Linked DNA regions of Homo sapiens: region 2 is reported to be linked to region 1. Evidence: microRNA targets listed by miRTarBase, many of them from high-throughput screens and not tested one by one. Region 1 holds a microRNA gene; the other region holds the end of a gene's coding sequence.
Evidence for each region. The annotated mature microRNA hsa-miR-4708-5p reads AGAGAUGCCGCCUUGCUCCUU and lies in region 1 at 5,471-5,491, opposite strand. An mRNA with a match to its seed (bases 2 to 7 or 8) in the 3' UTR can be bound and repressed. Matches are read on the target gene's strand: a 7mer-m8 pairs with bases 2 to 8, a 7mer-A1 pairs with bases 2 to 7 and ends in A, and an 8mer does both.

Region 1 (10,591 bases):
ATGTTTGTCAGACTTAGTCTGTTAACAAGTCTTAAGGTCTGTGCTGATGTTAATGCTGGTCAGCTTTTCCTGAATACTCAAAGAGAGGAAGGTATGATGAAGCATGTCTGACCCCCCTTCCCATCATGGCCTGAACTAACTTTTCAGGTTAACATTGGAATGTCCTTTGCTGAGATGAGGAGGTCCATTCAGGTGGCTGGGGGCTTAGAATTTTTGGTTTGCACTGCCATCCATCATTGTTTCTCCATGGCATGACCACTTTGAGCTGCCAACTCTCCCTCTCAGCTCACCTCTGAGCACTTCTCGGCATGACAGTGGGGCAGTCCAGCTACTTTCCCACAGCTACCACAGCCAGAAACAAGGCTGTCACTGAGCTCTCTCCCCCATCACCCGAACAACCATCTGTGCTCTGTTGACCCCATATCACTGTAGCATAAGCAAATGTGTGGGGTCAGCTGCCCTCCCTAGATAGGAAGTAGACACAAATTTCCTCTATTCTTAGTTTCCTCAAGGCTTATCTTGTGTTCTACTTGCCAGCCAGAGTTCCCTCTCTGCTAAAATAATTCACCCTGGGAAGATGATAGGGGCCTTCCTTGGAGACCACACATCTCTCCAGTCTAGATAACCCTACGAAAGTATCTAGGGGCTGGTAATCTTGCATGGAGGAGTGGGGAGAGTTCTTTCAGACCGTTCTTATTTGGTTCAAAATAACGATTTAGGGCCAAAGAGTTCCTGAATGCTCAAAAAGTATTTTCTCTCAAATCTAGGTCTTGTGTTCAGCAATCTCATTTGAATCTCAAAAGTTAACCACTGACTTTCTTTTTCTTGGCATTCCAGCTATGATAACCTCACTTTTCCCTGGGGCAGGGCATGCCTGGGTCTGCAGAGCAGTAGAATGTGGTGAAGTGTGTTTTGTTGATGGTAGAAGGGAGGACCTGTTTAATGTCTCAAAATACCTTCTGGAGTTGCAATGTTCCAGCCTCTATTTTTATGCTAAGTACCTTAAACCCATGTAATCTTCAGAACAATCTCAAGAACTAAGTATAATCATTCCAACGCAGATGAGGAAATGAAAATTCAAAGGGAGAATGGGGAATTTGTTAAAAGATTCCAGTTGTAAGTGGTGGCAAAATAATGAACCTAGGATAACCTGATTCCAAAGTCTTCATTTTAAACCCCAACAGTGAGGCTGGGCACAGTGGCTCAAGCCTGTAATCCCAGAAATTTGGGAGGCCAAGGCAGAATCACTTGAGGCCAGGAGTTCTAGACCAGTCTGGGCAACATGGTGAGACTCTGTCTCTACAAAAAACAAAAAAATCAGCTGGGCATGGTGGTGTGTACATGTAGTCCTAGCTACTTGGGAGGCTGTGGCAGAAGGATCACTTGAGCCCAGGAAGTTGAGGCTGCAGTGAGCCATGACAGTGCCACTACAATCCAGCCTGGGTAACAGAGGGATCTTGTCTCTAAATAAATAAATAACCCCCAACAGTGGCCTCATATCTTGTCCAACAACTAACTCTCTAGGAGATTTGTTAAAAATAATTTTGATATGCCAGGTTCTCGCCTGTAATCCCAGCACTTTGGGAGGCCAAGGCAGGTTGATCACTTGAGGTCAGGAGTTTGAGACCAGCTTGGCCAACATGGTGAAACCCTGTCTCCACTAAAATACAAAAATTAGCCGGGTATGGTGGTGCGTGCCTGTCATCCCAGCTACTCAGGAGGCTGAGGCAGGACAATCGCTTGAACCCAAGAGGTGGAGGGTTGCAGTGAGCTGAGATCACGCCACTGCGCTCCAGCCTGGGTGACAGAGTGAGCCTCCATCTCAATAATAATAATAATAATAATAATAATAATAATAATAATAATTTTGATAAAGATCCACTCCAGGAGATCCTGATCCAGTTGGTCTCGGTTAGAGCCTGGTCATTAGTATTTTGAACAGTGTCAACCTTGTGAAAGGAAAATAAATCTTTGGACCCCCCCAAAGAGAAAAGTCAAGCTGGGAGCTGCTTAGGGCAAACATGCCTCCCATTCTATTCCTTAAAGGAGATAGCTACTAAGATAAAAAAGCTATATACCTGCCTCACAATTTGTCTACAAGGAAATTCCTTTTGGACAAAGGACAAACAGAACGCAAAGTCATCCCTCTGCTCACTGAGATAAATGCATATCTGATTGCTTCTTTTGGAAAGGGTAATTGGAAACTCAAAAGAATGTTTGTCTATCTATGACCTGGAGGCCCCCTCCCTGCTTCAAGTTGTCCCACCTTTCTGATTGAACCAATGTACATCTTACATATATTGATTGACGTCTTATGTCTTCCTAAAATGTATGAAACCAAGCTGTGCCCCGACCACCTTGGGCACATGTCATGGGACTTCCTGAGGCTGTGTCACGGGTGCATCCTTAACCTTGAAAAAATAAAGTTTCTAAATTGAGACCTGTCTCAGATATTTGGGGTTCACAACCTAAATTAATGAGATTCTGAAGAGATGATTAAATATAGAGTTTGTAACCATAATCGTTTCATTGCCCAATGTGCATAGCAAGTCAATACGCTGAAACACCTAGTTGCAAGAGAGAAAGAGGTTTAATTGTAGGGCAGCTGAATGTGATGGGAGGAAACCTCAAATCAGTCTCTCCAAGGAATTTGGGTCTAGAATTTTTAGTGATTTTGGAGTGGGCTGAAGTGTGGAGATCTTTGCTTGGCCCAAGGGTGCAGGATGAAGTCATAGAACAGGGAGATGAAGAAACTATATTCTCATGCTGATTCTGCTCTCCTCTGGGGGTCTTCAAACTTGTTGGCATCAGCTCAAATTTGGGATCTGAAAAACATCTTAAGCAATTCTTAAACAAAAGCCTTATGATTCTAATGTCAGAGATTCTATCTATCTTAATCAGAGGCCTGATGATTCTAACCTCAGACAGAAATACTATCTGTAGGAACAATGAGGATGCAAGTGGTCAGGATCTAGTACTCCACAACTTTCACTTCCTGTTGTTACAAGGAAGTGAGCCACAGTGCAGCCTAATTAATGCTTAATCATAACTATATTTCTGTCCAGAATTCTTGTTAACATGGTGAAGATGGCTTCAAGTTTATTCAAGCTCAAAGCTTGAGGGTGGCCACCCAAGAGCATAGATTCAAGTTGCCCTAAACCCACACTCTGATTAGAAATAGCTACAAGAGGATTTTTAAGGAATAAAGAAGAGGCAGCTCCTAAATTGTTTACCAAGAATTTATACTAAAATAACATAAGCTATTGATTGGGTATGTGTTATTCTTTGCATCACAAATTCCAACATGAAGATAATGGGTAAGGCAGTTAAGCAGGAACAAAATGCCTTTACACAGTTGCCCTGGACATGGGCGCAGAGATGTGACTGAAGTCCCATACTCCTGTCTCTCCAGGCTTGATAAATTTTGTATACTTCACATAGCTCAGACTGATCTGAGCTATTTTTCTTTCTCAGCGGAGTCTCCGTAGTCTCCGTAATTCAGAGGCACACCAAAATTTGAAAGCCAGCTCTACCACTGACTAATTGTGTGATTTTGGACAAATTAGTTCATCTCCTAGTATCTCAGTTTCCTCATTTGCTAAATGGGGAAAATAACAGCTCCAACATCATTGAGCTGTTGTGGAAATTAAATTAATTTAAAATGAAAGCACTTGGAAGAGTACTTGGCACATAATAAATGCTCAATAAGTGTTAAAGATTGCTACTTTTCCTGTCCCTTAGCAACTAAAAAATATCTTTTAAGGAGCGCCATTTCCTGGACATACTACAAAAAAGGGGAATTGCCTGCATTTACATAGATTTTTTGATAGTTGATGTCTCTGAGAGCAATATTCTTTTAGCCCCTTCTCTAAATCCAGGTTTATGCCTAATTTAGATCCCACGGTCTCCTGTGGTCCTAACCACCTTGTGAACATGTTATGAAGGTAAATTGAAGTTAATCTAGGGATGGAATGATGAGAGCAGGTAAAAGATAAATAGTTCAATGGTTCTCAACCTTGGCTATACCTTATAATTATCTGGAGAGCTTTAAACAATGCCCAAGTCAGCTGGGCATGGTTGCTCACGCCTATAATCCCAGCTCTTTGGGAGGCTGAGTCAGGAGGACTGCTTGAGGCCAGGAGTTTGAGACCAGCTAGGCAACATGGTAAGACCCCCTCTCTATTATATATTAAAAATAATTTTTAAAAAATGCCTAAGTCACACCCCAGACCAATTAATATCAGAATCTGTGGGAACAGGGCTCAGCTATCAGTCTATTTTAATCTCCAGATGATTCCAGTGTGTAGCCACTGGCCTCATCTTAGCTCGGCTGAGCTGGTGAGACCCAGTAATCTGTATTCTAACAAGCCTTCTGCAAATCTCAGGACCTTTGGTGTGAACCATCCCATCATCCTCCCAATGTCCAGGCCTCTGATTTCACTTCTCTGCCCAGTGGGTGTGACTTGAAAGCAAGAGAGGAGGTGCAACAACCCTTAGTTTCTGTAAGAAGGTACAAGGAGACCAGTTCTGTATATCAAATCCTGGTTTATTCTAGCCAGACCTGTCTTAGGGACAATGATGGTCTTTCAGCCTAAATGCTTGCTTCTCAGGAAGCAGGTGAGCCAATGAAGGGCCCCACTCTCTCCAAGTGGAGACTATAGCATTTGCCTAAAATACCCCTTCTCTCCAGTCCTAACTGTCCTGGAAGCTTCTCAGAGGCCAAATATGTAAACAAGTTCCAAACCAACACATCTGCTTTTCATTTCCTGCGGAATGCTAAAACGAGTCTTTTAAGGTTGCTTAAAATATGTTCTCTCCTCCCGCCCCACCCCCCAGGGCATTTGCTGTGCGTCCTCAGACCACCTCAGCTCCTCCTTCCCTACACCTGGGACTCTTCTGCGCAGACTTGGCTTCAAACAAGGCTCACGGTTCTTCCTGGCATTTGCTTTTTTGGCTTAGCGAGTGCACATTCAATATCTTTTTCTTCTTTTTCTTGAAAGCACTGTCTTCAGTCTCCTCACTTGTCCCTTTCTCCTCTGGCAAGCGTAATGCTATCAACATTTGAAAGTGGCCTGATTCCCTGGTGTCTGGTAAATGGCCTTGCTGGTGAACTTCTTTAGGAGAACTGCAAAGAAACTAGAGCAGGGGCTAAAGAGAGCTGCTCTCTTGGGGCTCAGATGCCCCTCCTGGGGCCCCACCTCACACTAGGTGGGTTTCCTTCCTAAATTTGAGCAACGACTCTGTGTGACCTTAGCCACCCTTAACTTTGCTCTGCTTCTGTTTAGCATCTGTTAAGGAGTGACCTTTGCCACCAATTAATGAGGGTGAGGCCCCATTCAGTTGCAAAGAACGTGGAATTGTAAACAAACTTGCAAGTGGAAAGACTAGTTCCAGGGGAAATGTAGGTAAGAAAGGTGCTCCCGTATTCTCCTTTTAGTATCAGAGAGATGCCGCCTTGCTCCTCCTGTTCAAGGAGCAAGGCGGCATCTCTCTCCTAAATATGCTGTTGTGTCTCATACCTCAGCTTCTCAGGGCCCTGCCAAGAGCGGGTAGGTAACATAACAACAGCTGTTACTGCCCCAATGTATCCTCCCTCCAAATGTCAACAACATACACTTTGGAGTGGCCTCTTTATGTTAAGGCCTTGAGCTTTAAGACTCAGCTCTGGCCTTTAAGAATCGTATGTTCCCGTTGAAGAGACAGGATGTGTGTAAAGATAGCAGCTAGAGACCATGCCCAACAGATAACAAACATTAAGGGAATACATAAGTATTGAACAAATATATATGGAGCACTAATTATGTTTTGTTGTAAGCTCTGAGGCTAAAGTGTTATAGGACTTTCTCCTTAGTTCAACTAAAAGCCGGATTCTTGTCACACAGCCATGAGAGATTAGGCTTGCAGACACTTTGAAGGGTGAGAAGAATGGAACTTATTGGGCAAAAAGGAAAATAAATGGAAACAGGGACTCTCAGCAAAGTGAGAGTCCTGCTTGCTGGTTTTTCCTGCCTCACTGATTGAATCCCATGTACTACCCTGGATCAGGAGAGGCCAGGCTCCTTCCTGCTGCAAAGGGTGTGAACTTCTGCAGCTCCACCCTGTTCTCCCAGTGCGCAGGCCAGTCGGAGTTTCTCAGGGGACCCCTTTACACTTGGCTGTCTCAAAAAACAGGGAGCAAAACAGATAAAACCCCTGGCTTTATGGATCTTATGTTCCTTATATATATATATGTATAAGGAACACACGTATATATGTGTATATATGTATATATATATTTTTAGGTTCTGGAATAAATGTGCACAACATGCAGCTTTGTTACATAGGTATATACATGCCATGGTGGTTTGCTGCACCCATCAACCCGTCATCTACATTAGGTATTTCTCCTAATGCTATCCCTCCCCTATTCCCCCACCCCCTAGATCTTATGTTCTAATGAGACAAGACATACTTTGAGAGGCCAAGATGAGTGTCAGCAAATAAATATGTATAATACACCAGCTTCTGGGAAGTACTTTGAAGGAAAATGAAGCAGATTAAGGAGGGTAGAGTGACATGGTTAAGAGAATGTGGTTTTTTAGATGGGAGATCAGAGAAGACCTCTCTGGTAAGGAGACATTTGAGTCAAAATCTGAAGAAGGAGGGAGTGAGTCATCTGAGTCTGTGAAGAATTTTCTAAGCAAGGCGAGCAGCAAGCACGAAGGCTCTCAGGAAGGAGTGTGCTTGGTGAGTTCTAAGAACAAGCAGGCCAGTGTAGCTGGAAAGTAGTGAGCAGGAGACTGTGGGCAGGAGAGGACATGAGAGAGGTGACAGAGTGGATCACTGAGGACCCTGCAAGTGGTGGTAAGGACTTTAGATTTTGTTTTGAAGCCATTGGAGGGCTTTGAGTAGAGCAGTGACATGATTGGACTCACACCTTGGAAGGATCACTCTGAGCATGGACTCCAAGAGTGCACAAGGAGAAGTGTGAGGCCAGTGAGAAGGGTGCTGCAATAATCCGGGATGAGATGAAGATGATGGTGGCTTGGACCAGAGAGAAGAGACTAAGGGTGGTGAGATGAGATTAGATTCTGATATATAATGAAGGTAGAGTAGACAAGATAGATGAGATATAGGGTTATGATTTATGACATAAAGAGAGAAATCAGGAATGATTCCAGTGTTTTTGGCCGATACTCAAGGTTTTAAATTTATAGCAGGGATGGGCTGCTTCTGGTTAAGATAATAAGGGAAAGATTAATGAAAGACCCAAGATTTGAGCTGCACTTTGAAAAACTAGTAGGATTTTGTGACTTATAAAAAGTCTCAAGGGCTTATTTTGAGACCATTTTATCTCCTGGAGTGCAGCCTCCTACCCTAGTTCCACTTCTTTCAGTTATATCAACCAGGAGCTCTGGGATGCGGGACTCAGCCAGCCCAAGGAAGGTGAATCTGGATTCTTTAGGCCAATCATGAAAATTTTCTACTCTTGCCAGTAACTGGTTTAGAAATGGGCTGGTTTAAGAATGGGAATGTACTGGCCTGGGCATGGTGGCTCATACCTGTAATTCCCATACTTTGAGAAGCCAAGATGAGAGGATTGCTTGAGTCCAGGAGTTTGAGACCAGCCTGGACAATATAGTGAGCCCTCCTCTCTACAAAAATAAAAAATAAAATTAGCAGGGCACGGTGGTGCGTACCTTTAGTCCCAACTACTCAGGAGGCTGAGGTGGGAGAATTGCTTGAGCTCAGGTGTTTGACACTGCAGTGAGCCATGATTGAGCCACTGCACTCTAGCCTGGACCACAGAGTGAGACCCTGTCTCAAAATAAATAAAATAAAATAAAATAAAATAAATAAGGCATATGCTATAGTTCTGGACAATGGAACATAAAAGGAAACTGCAGAAGGGACGTCTGGGAAAATCTCTAAGTCTTCAAAAGGAAGCAAGGTACTCTGGCCTTGAGATGTTGTTAAGGACATAGAGCTTGAACTGCTATTGCCATCTTGCAAACATAAAGAGGAAGGTAAAGGCAACAGCTGCAGAGTGGCAGAGAGAAAAGGTGGACAAGCATGGTTCCTTGAGAACATTGCTGAGCTATGGAATTACCCAACCCTGGAACTGCACAACTTCTGAATTTTTTTTTTTTTTTTTTGAGACAGAGTCTTGCTCTGTCGCCCAGGCTGGAGTGCAGTGGTGTGATCTTGGCTCACTGCAAGCTCTGCCTCCCGGGTTCACGCCATTCTCCTGCCTCAGCCTCCCAAGTAGCTGGGTCTACAGGCGCCTGCCCCCATGCCCAGCTAATTTTTTGTATTTTTAGTAGAGATGGGGTTTCACCATGTTAGCCAGGATGGTCTCCATCTCCTGACCTCGTGATCTGCCCACCTCAGCCTCCCAAAGTGCTGGGATTACAGGCGTGAGCCACCGTGCCCGGCCCTGAATTTCTTTTGTAAGATTAAAAAAAAAATCTTATCATGAAATGCTTTTGAGTTGGGCAGTTTCTACTTGAAGCTCAAAGTACATCGTTTTAGATAAGCAATAAAGATTCTGGTTAGAAGAGGGCAAAAACAAACACTTTGAGGCAAGACTTTCTTGGAGACAAGAAAGCTCAAAGCGTATTTGGGGAGGATTGGTGGAATAGCTTGACATTCATTCATAAATTCATTCACTAAGTATTTGTTGACGCCTACTGTGTGCCAGGCACTGTTCTAAGATCTAGTATTCTGCAGGAAACAAGATTGACAGGGTACCTCTTATGGAGTTTATTACCTTGTGGAGGAAAGAGGGGTGCATGTGGACAGTGGCTACTGTATTGAACAGCACAGGCATAGGGTCTGGGAAGGCCTAATTCAGGGAAAGCATGAAAGGATGAAACTGTGAGTTTTGGCAATGGCTTTAGGCTTCTGCTGCTCTGCTCTCGATTCATTCTCCAAAGAGATTTATTAGGTCAAAGGGCATAAATATTTTTAGGACTTAAAATTACTTTCCTAATTGGTTACATCAATTTATGGTACTACCCAAGGAATACAGGTCCTGATATTACTGGGTTTGGATTTAGGGATTTCCATTTTAATTTGGTAGGGATTAATTTAGTAAAGGAGTTCATTTAATAAAGTTAATTTAATTAATTTAGTGAAAAAATACCATGCTTCTTTTAATTTGCTTCTTTTTGATAATTAGTAAAATTGACTACTTTTGTGTGTTTGTTAATACTTGTTCTTTTGTTAATTGTTTTGTTAGTTTTTATTCAGTTATCAGCTGAGATCTTAATGGGATTCTTATCAACTTATCTGAGTTCTTGACATAGTTCTTGTTGTAAATATAACTCCTGGTATGTTGTTTGTTGTTAATTCTGGTGATGTATTACATATAAAATTTATTTATAAAGAATTTTTAATTTTTTTGAGACAGAGTCTCACTCGGTCACCCAGGCTGGAGTGCAGTGGTGTGATCTCGGCTCACTGCAACCTCCGCCTCCTGGGTTCATGCCATTCTCCTGCCTCAGCCTCCCAGGTAGCTGGGACAACAGGCGCCTGCCACCTCGCCTGGCTAATTTTTTGTGTATTTAGTAGAGACGGGGTTTCACTGTGTTAGCCAGGATGGTCTTGATCTCCTGATCTCGTCATCCGCCCGCCTCGGCCTCCCAGAGTGCTGGGATTACAGGCGTTAGCCATCGTGCCCAGCCTAAAAAAATTTTTATGTAGTTAAGTACTTTAATATTTTCTGTGTAGTATACTATATTGCTATACTAGAAGCAATGTACTATTGCTTATACTATAAGCAATTAGTATTGCTTATAATTATAGAGTCATCTTCCCACTACTGTTTTGACAAATTTTCAATCCTATTTTCTTCTGAACTTCACAGTATTAAATGTTTTTAAGACTTGAAATCAAACAAAATTAATTTTAATATATAAGGTGTGGATCTCAATTCTTCCCTTCCCTCTTAAACTGCTGGTCAGTTATCCATCCACCATTTATTGAAAAATATTTGGCCAGCCATGGTGGCTCATGCCTGTAATCCCAGCACTTTGGGAGGCCAAGGCGGGCAGATCACCTGAGGTCAGGAGTTCGAGACCAGTCTGGTCAACATGGAGAAACCCCGTCTCTACTAAAAATAGAGAGATTAGCCGGGAATGGTGTTGTATGCCCATAATCCCAGCTACTTGGGAGCAGGAGAATCACTTGAACCTGGGAGGTGGAAGTTTCAGTGAGCTGAGATTGCGCCACTGCACTCCAGCCTGGGTGATAGCAAGACTTTGTCTCAAAAGAAAAAAAAGAAAAGAAAAAGAAAAATATTTGTTGATCTCATTGTATCATGATAGCTTTATCATACACTGGGTTATTTATGAAGAAAAGAGATTTGACTCACAGTTCCACAGGCTTAACAGGAAGCATGACTGGGAGGCCTGGGGAAACTTAAAATTATGGCAGAAGGTGAAGAGGAAGCAAAGCACATCTTTCCATAGTGGAGCAAGAGAGAGCTAATGAGTGAGGGGGGACGTGCCACACACTTTTAAAACATCAGATCTTGTGAGAGTTCACTCACTATCGCGAGAACAGCATGGGGGAAATCCACTGCCATGATCCAATCACCTCCCACTAGGTC
Region 2 (10,591 bases), not on the chromosome of region 1:
CCACCGCGCCCACACCCGGCCTAGACACACTTTAAAAATGCTGCTCTACTTCCTAGCCCTCTTCTGCCTGTCACCCTCCTTTCTCCTCAAACCATTCTTCCTTCCTAATCTTCCTACTCCCAAACTACGGAAGAAAGAGAACTGCTGGATAATTATTCTTTTTTTTTTTTTTTTTTGAGACAGAGTCTCGCTCTGTTGCCCAGGCTGGAGTGCAGTGGCGCGATCTTGGCTCACTGCAAGCTCCGCCTCCTGGGTTCAGGCCATTCTCCTGCCTCAGCCTCCCGAGTAGCTGGGACTACAGGCACCCGCCACCACACCTGGCTAATTTTTTGTATTTTTTAGTAGAGACGGGCTTTCACCGTGTTAGCCAGGATGATCTCGATCTCCTGACCTCGTGATCCGCCCGCCTCGGCCTCCCAAAGTGCTGGGATTACAGGCGTGAGCCACCGCGCCCGGCCTTGCATAATTATTCTTGAAACACTTAAGATTCATGACAAGGGGCAGAATCTAGGTAGAAAGTGCTTAACTAGATGTTAAACCCTGTGGCTTGAGAGCCCCAATGTTAAACCAAAGAGGTATAGTAAAGGCTGGTGATAGACCAGGAAAAAGCCTGCCCCCACCTAAGCCCCCAGCTTTACCCCGCTTTGGTCATGGCCAAAGCCGTGTTGGGGCTCAGGCCTGACGGACCAAAAGACAAGGCCCATCTATAAAGAATCTTGGAGGCCCATTTTGTATTTGAAATACTTCAAAAATTTCCAACAACATCAGGGCTAATATTTGTACAGGCAGTTACTTCAAGTAAAAACAAGAGAGATGGGTACAAAGTGAGGAAAGGGAGGTAGGATCAGGGCTGGGCTAGCACTGGTGTGTGGAGTAACCTGATTAAACCGTGCTGTGCTTCTGTCCTCTCCTATTGTCTCTGAAAAACCATCTAAATTTGCTTTATAAACATGTATAAGCCATTCTCTATAAGTGCGTGGCTAAGAAGATAATTGTTCTGTTAAGTTTTTTCTTAGAGACAGGGTTTCACTCTTTTGCCCAGCTGGAGTGCAGTGGTACAATCTTGGCTCACTGCAGCCTCCTGGGCTCAAGCCATCCTCCCACCTCAGCCTCCCGAGTAGCTGGGACTACAGGCTCGTGCCACAGTGCTTGGCTAATTTATTTTTGTAGAGATGGGGTCTCCCTATGTTGCCCAGGCTGGTCTGGAACTTCTGGGCTCCAGCAATCCTCCCACCTTAGCCTTCCAAAGTGCTGAGATTACAGGTGCGAGCCACCATTCGAGCTCATTGTTTTATTTTTAAAGAACATTAATAAAAATTATGGCCAGGCACAATGGCTCACACCTGTAACCCCAGCACTTTGGGAGGCTGAGGTGAGAGGATTGCTTGAGCCCAGGAGTTCAAGACCAGCCTGGGCAACATGATGAAACCCCATCTCTACAGAATACAAAAAAAAAAAAAAATTAGCTGGGCGTGGTGGCTCACGCCTGTATGCCTGTATCCCAGCAGCTCCGGAGGCTGAAATGGAAGGATCACTTGAGCCTGGGAAGGTCAAGACTGCAGTGAGATCATGCCACTGCACTCCAGCCTGGGTAACAGAGTGAGACCCTGCCTCAAAGTAAAAAAAGATAATATAGATATCTGCCACTATACTTAGTGTTTATTCTGTGCCGGCCAGATCCTGGGCATTTTACCTAGAATACCTTAACTCGTTTCTTTCTTTTTTTTTTTTTTTTTTTTTTTTTTTTGAGACAGAGTCTTGCTCTGTTGCCCAGGCCGGACTGCAGTGGCGCCATCTCGGCTCACTGCAAGCTCCGCCTCCCGGGTTCACGCCATTCTCCTGCCTCAGTCTCCCGAGTAGCTGGGACTACAGGCGCCCACCACCGTGCCCAGCTAATTTTTTGTATTTTCAGTAGAGACGGGGTTTCACCGTGTTAGCCAGGATGGTCTCGATCTCCTGACCTCGTCATCCTCCCGCCTCGGCGTGAGCCACCGCGCCTGGCACCTTAACTAGTTTCTAAACTCCAGAAATATTAGTGTTCTCAGGCTTTCAGAAGAGAGCCATGGTCTAACACGAGGTGCTTGGTAACTGCATGGTCATGTGGTCGGCTTGCTGTTTTCGCCTGGTGACTTCCTCACCTGTGCGGGGTCTGCCCGTTTAACGCACCTGCAACATGCATTCCTGGACAGTGGGTGGCGCCATGGAACCATCTGCCGTTCTCACTGCACCCCTTCATTTGTGGCAGCCTTAGCTTTTAGTGGATGAGGGGAGTCTATTGGTTGATAAAAAAGACTGTGAGACTTTTAAAGCATATCCATCGACAGTGATAACGAGGAGACGTAAGCAGGAAAGGAGGCAAAATGATCCACTATGCCAGTGGTCAGGAAACGTGTCTCAGGAGGTGGCACAGAAACTGCCAAGTCCTTGGCATGCCCCTGGCTGGGGCCTGCGTGGGCCAGGCTGAGAGAGCTGTGGACTGAAGAGAAGCAGGTGTTAGACGTGCAGACAGTTCCCGGGCAGGAGCTGGAGGCCGAGGAAAAACGCAGCTTGCAACATGCTGGAGTTCAGGAGCAAGCTGTGTGTGTGTCTTAAGAATTGCTTGTAAGAGTTACTATAACCAAATCGACAAATGTCAACTTGGCTAATAAATCGTACTTGGTAGAATAAAGAGGACAGTTCTCAGTGCACGATCCTGTTTCTTCCACAATTCCGGTCTCCTCTCCATGGTGCCTTCGCTGAGGCAATCTGTGCTTTCCCTGAACTCTGTGTCACCTCTCAGGCTAGCCGTCCTTAGCCATGAACAGAGCTAATGAACATGAGCCATGAACATGAAGCTGTCCAGGGGTAACCAGTGAGTTCAGCTCAAAACAGGGGAATGCCAGAGTGTTGTCAGCATGAGTGGGGAGAAACATGTAATTCAAGAATGTAGCCGGGCGTGGTGGCTCACGCCTGTAATCCCAGCACTTTGGGAGGCCGAGGCGGGCGGATCATGAGGTCAGGAGATCGAAACCATCCTGGCTAACACGGTGAAACCCCGTCTCTACTAAAAATACAAAAAATTAGCCAGGCGTGGTGGCAGGCGCCTGTAGTCCCAGCTACTCGGGAAGCTGAAGCAGGAGAGTGGCGTAAACCCGGGAGGCGGAGCTTGCAGTGAGCCGAGATCCCACTACCGCACTCCAGCCTGGGCAACAGAGCAAGACTCTGTCTCAAAAAAAAAAAAAAAAGAAAAAGAAAAAAAAAGAATGTAAAAGGGCACGTAGTTCAAAGTCTCTCAATCTATAAAGGAGGCACATGGCAAATCATTGGCAGAAATAGGGTCAGAACCCAGGAAGATTTTGCCTTAGTCGAACCATCACTTTATTTCTGCACTTACAATGCTGATCTCAAGGAAATGAATTGATGCTAGTTCATTTCTTCTATGATCTATTAAACTGATCAAAAAGAGCCTTTTGCAGGCCTGTTTTTAGACTTGTAATTGACACTTGCTGAAATCTTTCATGTCAATGCCCACCAGTATGTCCCTGATCACTAGTGTACAAAACTGTGTCACAAAGAATCTATTTGGGCCAGGCACGGTGGCTCATGCCTGTAATCCCAACACTCTGGGAGGCCAAGGGGAGAGGATCGCTTGAGCCCAGGAGTTCAATACCAATCTGGGCAACATGGTGAAACCCTGTCTCTATCAAAAATTAAAAAATTAGTTGGGGGTGGTGGATGCCTGTAGTCCCAGCTACTCAGGAGACTGAGGTGGGAGGATGGTTTGAGCCCAGGAGGCAGAGGTTGCAGTGAGCCAAGATCACACCACTGCACTCCAGCCTGGGCAACAGAGCCAGACCCTGTCTCAAAAAAAAAAAAAAAAACAGAAAAACTGGCCACCCATGCACCTTAGCCAAAAAGAATCATATGAAAAAGAAAATACATGTTGTGCATGTGGAAGACTAAAAAAATAAAAAAGGAAAAATCAAGTTGTAAGAATCGACTCCAGCTCTTGTCCTGATTTTTAGGCTCTTCTTGCTTCTTTCCATGTGTTCATCACTGTGATGCTGATAAGAGCCAGAAAGCCTAGGAAAGCTTTGTGGACACTTTTTTTTTTTTTGAGACAGAGTCGCATTCAGGCTGGAGTGCAGTGGCACAATCTTGGCTCACTGCAAACTCTGCCTTCCCAGTCCAAGTGATTCTCCTGCCTCAGCCTCCCAAGCAACTGAGATTACAGGCACCCGCCACCACACCCAGGTAATTTTTGTATTTTTAGTAGAGACAGGGTTTTGCCATGTTGGCCAGACTGGTCTGGAACTCCTGACCTCAAATGATCCTCCCATCTCGGCCTCCCAAAGTGCTGGGCATAAGTCACCACACCCAGCATTTTTTTTCAACTTCTGAACATAGGGCAGCTTAAAAATGTGAAGGCCGGGCATGGTATTTCGTGCCTGTAATTCTAGCACTTTGTAAGGCCGAGGTGGGAGGCTCACTTCAGCCCAGGAGTTCGAGCCTGAAAAACACAGTGAAGCCCTGTCTGTACTTTAATACAAAAAATTAGCCAGTCTTGGTGGCACATGCCTATAGTTCCAGCTACTCAGGAGGCTGAGGTAGGAGGATCCCTTGAGCTCAGGAAGTTGAGGCTGTGGTAAGCCAAGATCACACTACTGCACTGCAGCCTGGACAACAGGAGACCCTGTCTCAAAAAAAAAAAAGGAGGGGGGGGTGCCGAGCGCAGTGGCTTACGCCTGTAGTCCCACCTACTCGGGAGGCTGAGGCAGGAGAGTTGCTTGAACCCAGGAGGCAGAGGTTGCAGTAAGCCAATATCACCCCACTCCACTCCAGCCTGGCAACAGAGCCAGACTCCGTCTCAAAAAAAAAAAAAAAAAAAAAAAAAAAAGGCCGGGTGCAGTGGCTCATGCCTGTAATCCTGGCACTTTTGGAGGCCAAGGCGAGACCAGCGTGGCCAACATGGTGAAACCTCTTCTCCACTTAAAATACAAAAATTAGCTGGGTGTAGTAGCGCACGCCTGTAGTCCCAGCTTCTCAGGAGGCTGAGGCAGGAGAATTGCTGAAACCTGGGAGGCAGAGGTTGCAGTGAGCCGAGGTCATGCCCACTGCACTCCAGCCTGGGTGATAAAGCAAGACTTCGTCTCAAAAAACAAACAAAACGTTAACATTCAGAGGCAAGCGATGGGGTCTATGAGATAGTTCATTTGTGTTGCTGCTGAACCAGTAAACAATGCCAACAAGAACAAACCTGGGAAGCGGACCTGGGCAGGCATGCAAAGAATGTACACTCTACCCTCTGTGGCCTTGCTAAGCTCAGCTCTCGGTCCCGTCCTCTGTCCAGATGCCCCTGGCTATCATGTGTATAGTGTGTCTAGGTAGCCTCCGGAACACAGCCTTCTTAGTCTGCAGATTCCTGCTCTACATCAGGATGAGAAGTTTGTTAGTAATCACCTGGTTTTACAGAACTGATGTGTTACCAAAACATTTTTTTTTCTTTTTTTGAGGCGAGGGTCTCACTCTGTGGCCCAGGGTGGCGTGCAATGGTGTGATCTCTGCTCACTGCAACCTCAGCCTCCCAGGTTCAAGTGATTCTCATGCCTCAGCCTCCTGAGTAGCTGGGATTACAGACATGCACCACCACACCTAGCTAATTTTGGTATTTTTAGTAGAGATAGGGTTTTGCCGTGTTGGCCAGGCTGGTCTCCAACTCCTGGCCTCAGGTGATCCGCCTGCCACAACCTCCCAAAGTGCTGGGATTATAGGCGTGAGCCACTGCACGTGGCCCAAGATGACAATTATGATTATATAACATGACAGTAGGAACTTCCTGAGGCATAGGACTTGCAAAGGCAGTGACACATTTTTATATAAATTAACTTTTATTTCTGTAACATATAAAAGGTATAAATAGGACTTATGTAAAAACCAATCACCTGCACACACAAATTATGTGAAATTAGTTTATATATCTCTTTAAACCAGAGGGAGGAAGAAGCAGGATGAGGTCCACCTGGCCCACCATAAGTCCTTCCCCACATGCTGTCGTGTATTAATAGCTTCTGTGGCCAACCAGGGTTATCTGCCAGGCAGTGCCTCAGGATGGGGTGGGGGGTGGTGGTGGTGACGAGGTGTGAGGCTTCTGGGCATGGCTGTGAGGGAGGCACTTGGTGGGATACATGCCTGAGATGGAAACAGTCTCGTCCTCACCCAGCAGGTGGGACTTGTCGGTGGGGGACAAGCCAAGGGTCCCGCAGCTGCCAGTTGGCCCTCCTTCACATGCTTATCTGATGTGGTGCAGGAACAACAGGCGGAGGTGAGAGGTCAGTCCACAGAAGGGAGGTCTGAGGGAGCAGCCGCCACGGGTGTCCCACCCAACGCTGGCAAACAGTTCTGTGCACAAGGGATGCAGCTGAATGGTGCTGACGGTGGAGCTCACAGAGCTCCTGCATTCTCAAGGTTTGGATACATTCTGGGAAGGGTGAACTGGTGTAAGAGTCACATAATACGTGGAGGGGTGTAATAATCAAAAAAACGTAGCAAAACACCTTCTGTGCCTGAGCCAGGGTTGAGGGAGCCGAGAAGAAAGTCCACAGCTCTGCCACACGGGCCAGCAGTGCTCATGTCTGCTGGCTGATCCTCCCCAAAGCCTCTCCTGCCACCTTTTTTTTTTTTTTTTTAACTAAACTAAATGGTCAATACTGCCATCTCTCTTGATAATGACAAAGTGTTTGCACAGGATGCCTACAGGTGTGTGTGTCGCTCCTCACTAATGGATCCGTAGTCATATAGCTGTGAGAGGCACTCCTGGGTTGAAAATGAAGGCAATTATCACATTACTGTCAGTCCTGACTGAGTCACCTCTAGAGTTTATGCTTTCAGCCTTAATTGAAATGAAGACAATTATATAAAATTCTCACATAATTGATCACAAATGTGATCACAGCCACTCTTGACTAAGATTGGTGCCGGCCAATCTGCTGTGAGGGAATGAAGAGAGGAGAGGAACTGCGATGTCAGTCCCTGATTCTACTGCAAGTTTCCAAGCACATGAAATCCCATTCTAGCTTTGGAGACCCCAATGTGACAAGAATCTCCCTGTGCTTTAAATCATCTCTCACCCATGCTAAGCTGTGATCCCTCACCAAGTCTATGAAACCTGGAAAAGGAGTGAGAGTGCGCGGGGTGTGTGTGTGTTTTATATATTCAGGGGTCGTTCCAAAAGGGGCAAACTATTGCTCTTCGTGTGTGTGTTTTATATATTCAGGGGTCGTTCCAAAAGGGGCAAACTATTGCTCTTCGTGTGTGTTTTATATATTCAGGGGTCGTTCCAAAAGGGGCAAACTATTGCTCTTCGTGTGTGTGTTTTATATATTCAGGGGTCGTTCCAAAAGGGGCAAACTATTGCTCTTTGTGTGTGTGTTTTATATATTCAGAGATCATTCCAAAAGGGGCAAACTATTGCTCTTTAAGTCCTGGGGCAGGGAGGGGAAGGGGAGGCCACTGTCTGCTCCTGAAAGCTCTGTGGGGAGAAGGGCTCCCTGCCTGACTGTTCTCTCATTCACACGCCAGCTTACTGTCAAAGCTAGAAAGACCGATGCCAAAGGCCTGTACTGCACAAAGTGGGTAGTTGTAATCCAGTGTGAACACGTCATCTGCCACACGTCCAAACTGCATGACTATATAATCAGCTAGAAACAGAAAGAAATCAACATGTTAGAATATAATGTGGTTGCACTCAGGGAAATCTTTTTCTTTTTCTTCCTTTTCTTAGATGGGGTTTTGCTCTGTCGCCCTGGCTGGAGCCTAGTGGAATGACCACAGCTCACTGCAGCCTTGACCTCCCGTCCCAGGCTCAAGTGATCCTCCCACCTCAGCCTCCTGAGTAGCTGGGACTACAGGCAAGCGCCACCACGCCTGGCTAATATTTTACTTTTTGTGAAGATAGGGTCTCACTATGTTGCTCAAGCTGGTCTCAAACACCTAGGCTCAAGTGATTCTCCTGCCTCGGCCTCCCAAAGTGCTGGGATCCTATTTATGATACAGAAAGAATCCTCCAAATAGGCCAGTTAATCACCAGGTTTCTGTAGAATAGAGAGCAGCTTGCTGGGAATGTCATAAACTCCGCAGGCTAGAGCTGCCAGGAACCTTTATTGGGGTCATTTGCCTTTGTTTCCCAAACAACCTACTCTATGACTTCTCTGATTTTTTATTTTTTTCTGAGACAGGTTCTTGCTGTCACCCAGGCTGGAGAGCAGTGATGCAATCTCAGCTCACTGCAGCCTCGACCTCCTGGCTCAAGTGATGCTCCCACCTCAGCCTCCCGGGTAGCTGGGACTACAAGTGCCTGCCACCACGCCCAGCTAATTTTTCTATTTTTTGTAGAGATGGGGTTTCACACCATGTTGCCCAGGCTGGTCTCAAGCGATCTGCCCACCTCGGCCTCCCAAAGTGCTGGGATTACAGACGTGAGCCATGGTGCCCAGCCAACTTCTCTGATTTGCTATAGCATCTCTCTCACACTCCTCTCCCCTCCTCAACACAGTGATTTACAAGTTTTCTCTAAAACTGTAGTTTCATCTTTCCAAAGAAATCCTGTCTCTCCTCCATGATTATCTGCTGACTGTCACTTCCTATCATGTACAGGGAATGTGCATTCCCATCCTGTAAGAGCATCTGTCCTCCTCTTCCCACCCAACCCCTCCTGGAGGCTTACGGTCATTTTTGTGGACTATCTGGAAGTTCTTCACAGACGCCTGAGTGACCCGGCCACGGAAGTTGAGGACATAGGACTGAGTGTCACTGTTCCAGACGGGGGCCTTGTTGTGCAGCTCAACCAGATTTTCCATAGTTCTGTTCTGCCACCTTGAGAGCAAACTGTCATGGTTCTGTCCAAAGGGAAAATCATTACTTTGTACTGAGAACTCCAACTCTACGAGGTAGAAGGTAGAGTAGGAGAATACTTTCTCCATTTCAGAAAGGGTAAACCAGAAGCGAAGAATGAAAGCCAACAATGAAGACAGGTTTTTTTTAAAATTATTCTACATCATCCAGCATTTCTCTTTGTAGAAAAAATGGTTTCAAGGCAATGACTCTGCAACTGCTCTTATCCTGAGGTTTTGGAGGGGCAGCTTTCCTAAAGAAGTGTATGGAGCTATCTCCAGTGTGGGGCTCTGGAAGCTCAATCTTTTTTTTTTTTTTTGTATTAATCTCTGTGTATTGTACTACTGTCTTTTAGAGTCTTTCACTGATTTAAATACATTCTTACTCACGTTTTGTGGCTGATAGGGGATCTGCTTATGATTCAGTGTCATTCCAGGAATGATCACAGACATTTTCCTAGGACCTTTAAATCCAAGTACGTTTGTTTCCTGGAAGATAGGAAAACAAAGCAGAACTTGGAAACAGGAAAAAAATAGAGACCACATTCTTTTATAACATGAGACTTTCTTGGGAATGTAAGATGCTGACAATATCAGCTGTATCAGCCGGGGCAGTGGATCACGCCTATAATCCCAGCACTTTGGGAGGCCGAGGTGGGCAGATAACCTGAGGTCAGGAGTTTGAGACCAGCCTGGCCAACATGGTGAAACCCTGTCTCTACTAAAAATACAAAAATTAGCCAGGCGTGGTGGCAGGCGCCTGTAATCCCAGCTACTCGGGAGGCTGAGGCAGGAGAATTGCTTGAACCCAGGAGGCAGAGGCTGCAGTGAGCCGAGATCACGCCGTTGCACTCCAGCCTGGGCGACAAGAGTGAGACTCTGCCTCAGAAAAAAAAAAAAAAAAAAAAAAAAAAAAAAATCAGGTGTACCAAAAATAATTTTATTACTTTGCTGTAAACAGAATCAAAAACAGGAAAGTAATATTATATCTCTTTATACTTCTCTTTTTTTTTTTGAGACAGAGTCACGCTCTGTCGCCAGGCTGGAGTGCAGTGGCACAATCTCAGCTCACTGCAACCTCCAATCTCCACCTCCTGGGTTCAAGCGATTCCTGTGCCTCAGCCTGGGACTACAGGCGCATGCCACCACGCCTGGCTAATTATTTTTTGTATTTTTAGTAGAGACGGGGTTTCACCAAGTTGGCTAGGATGGTCTCGATCTCCTGACCTCGTGATCTGCCTGCCTCAGCCTCCCAAAGTGCTGGGATTACAGGCGTGAGCCACTGCACCTGGCCTATACCTTCTTTAAACACCTACATTTAAAACAGAATCTCTTGGCTTGAGAGTTTACTCTTAACTATTTTTTTTTTGGGACCAGAGTTTCACTCTTGTTGCCCAGGCTGGAGTATAATGGCACAATCTCAGCTCACCACAACCTCCGCCTCCCGGGTTCAAGCAATTTTCCTGCCTCAGCCTGAGTAGCTGGGATTATAGGCATGCGCCACCACACCCGGCTAATTTTGTATTTTTTTTTTTTTTTTAGTCGAGACGGGGTTTCTCCATGTTGGTCTCGAATTCCCGACCTCAGGTGATCCGCCCATCTTGGCCTCCCAAGGTGCTGTGACTACAGGAGTGAGCCACCACGCCCGGCCTCTTACTCTTGAGTCTTAAATGTGATTTGAGATAACTGTGAACAAACTGTTCAACTTTGTCAGCACCAACACA

Region 2: the mRNA of TULP3 is a reported target of hsa-miR-4708-5p. Seed matches in the 3' UTR shown: 7mer-A1 at 6,170-6,176.

The regions. Positions count from the first base shown.
Region 1 is chr14:65,329,685-65,340,275 of GRCh38, forward strand. It overlaps MIR4708 (microRNA 4708), which reads right to left and starts at 5,499; the gene lies at 5,433-5,499. RefSeq lists enhancers at 1-14, 874-1,484, 6,438-6,537, 6,598-6,747.
Region 2 is chr12:2,936,396-2,946,986 of GRCh38, reverse strand. It overlaps TULP3 (TUB like protein 3), which reads right to left. Exons shown (of 11, transcript NM_003324.5): 9 at 9,258-9,356; 10 at 8,702-8,873; 11 at 5,849-7,676. The coding sequence ends at 7,543. Among named protein-coding and RNA genes, the nearest start is that of TEAD4, 18 kb to the left of the region's middle.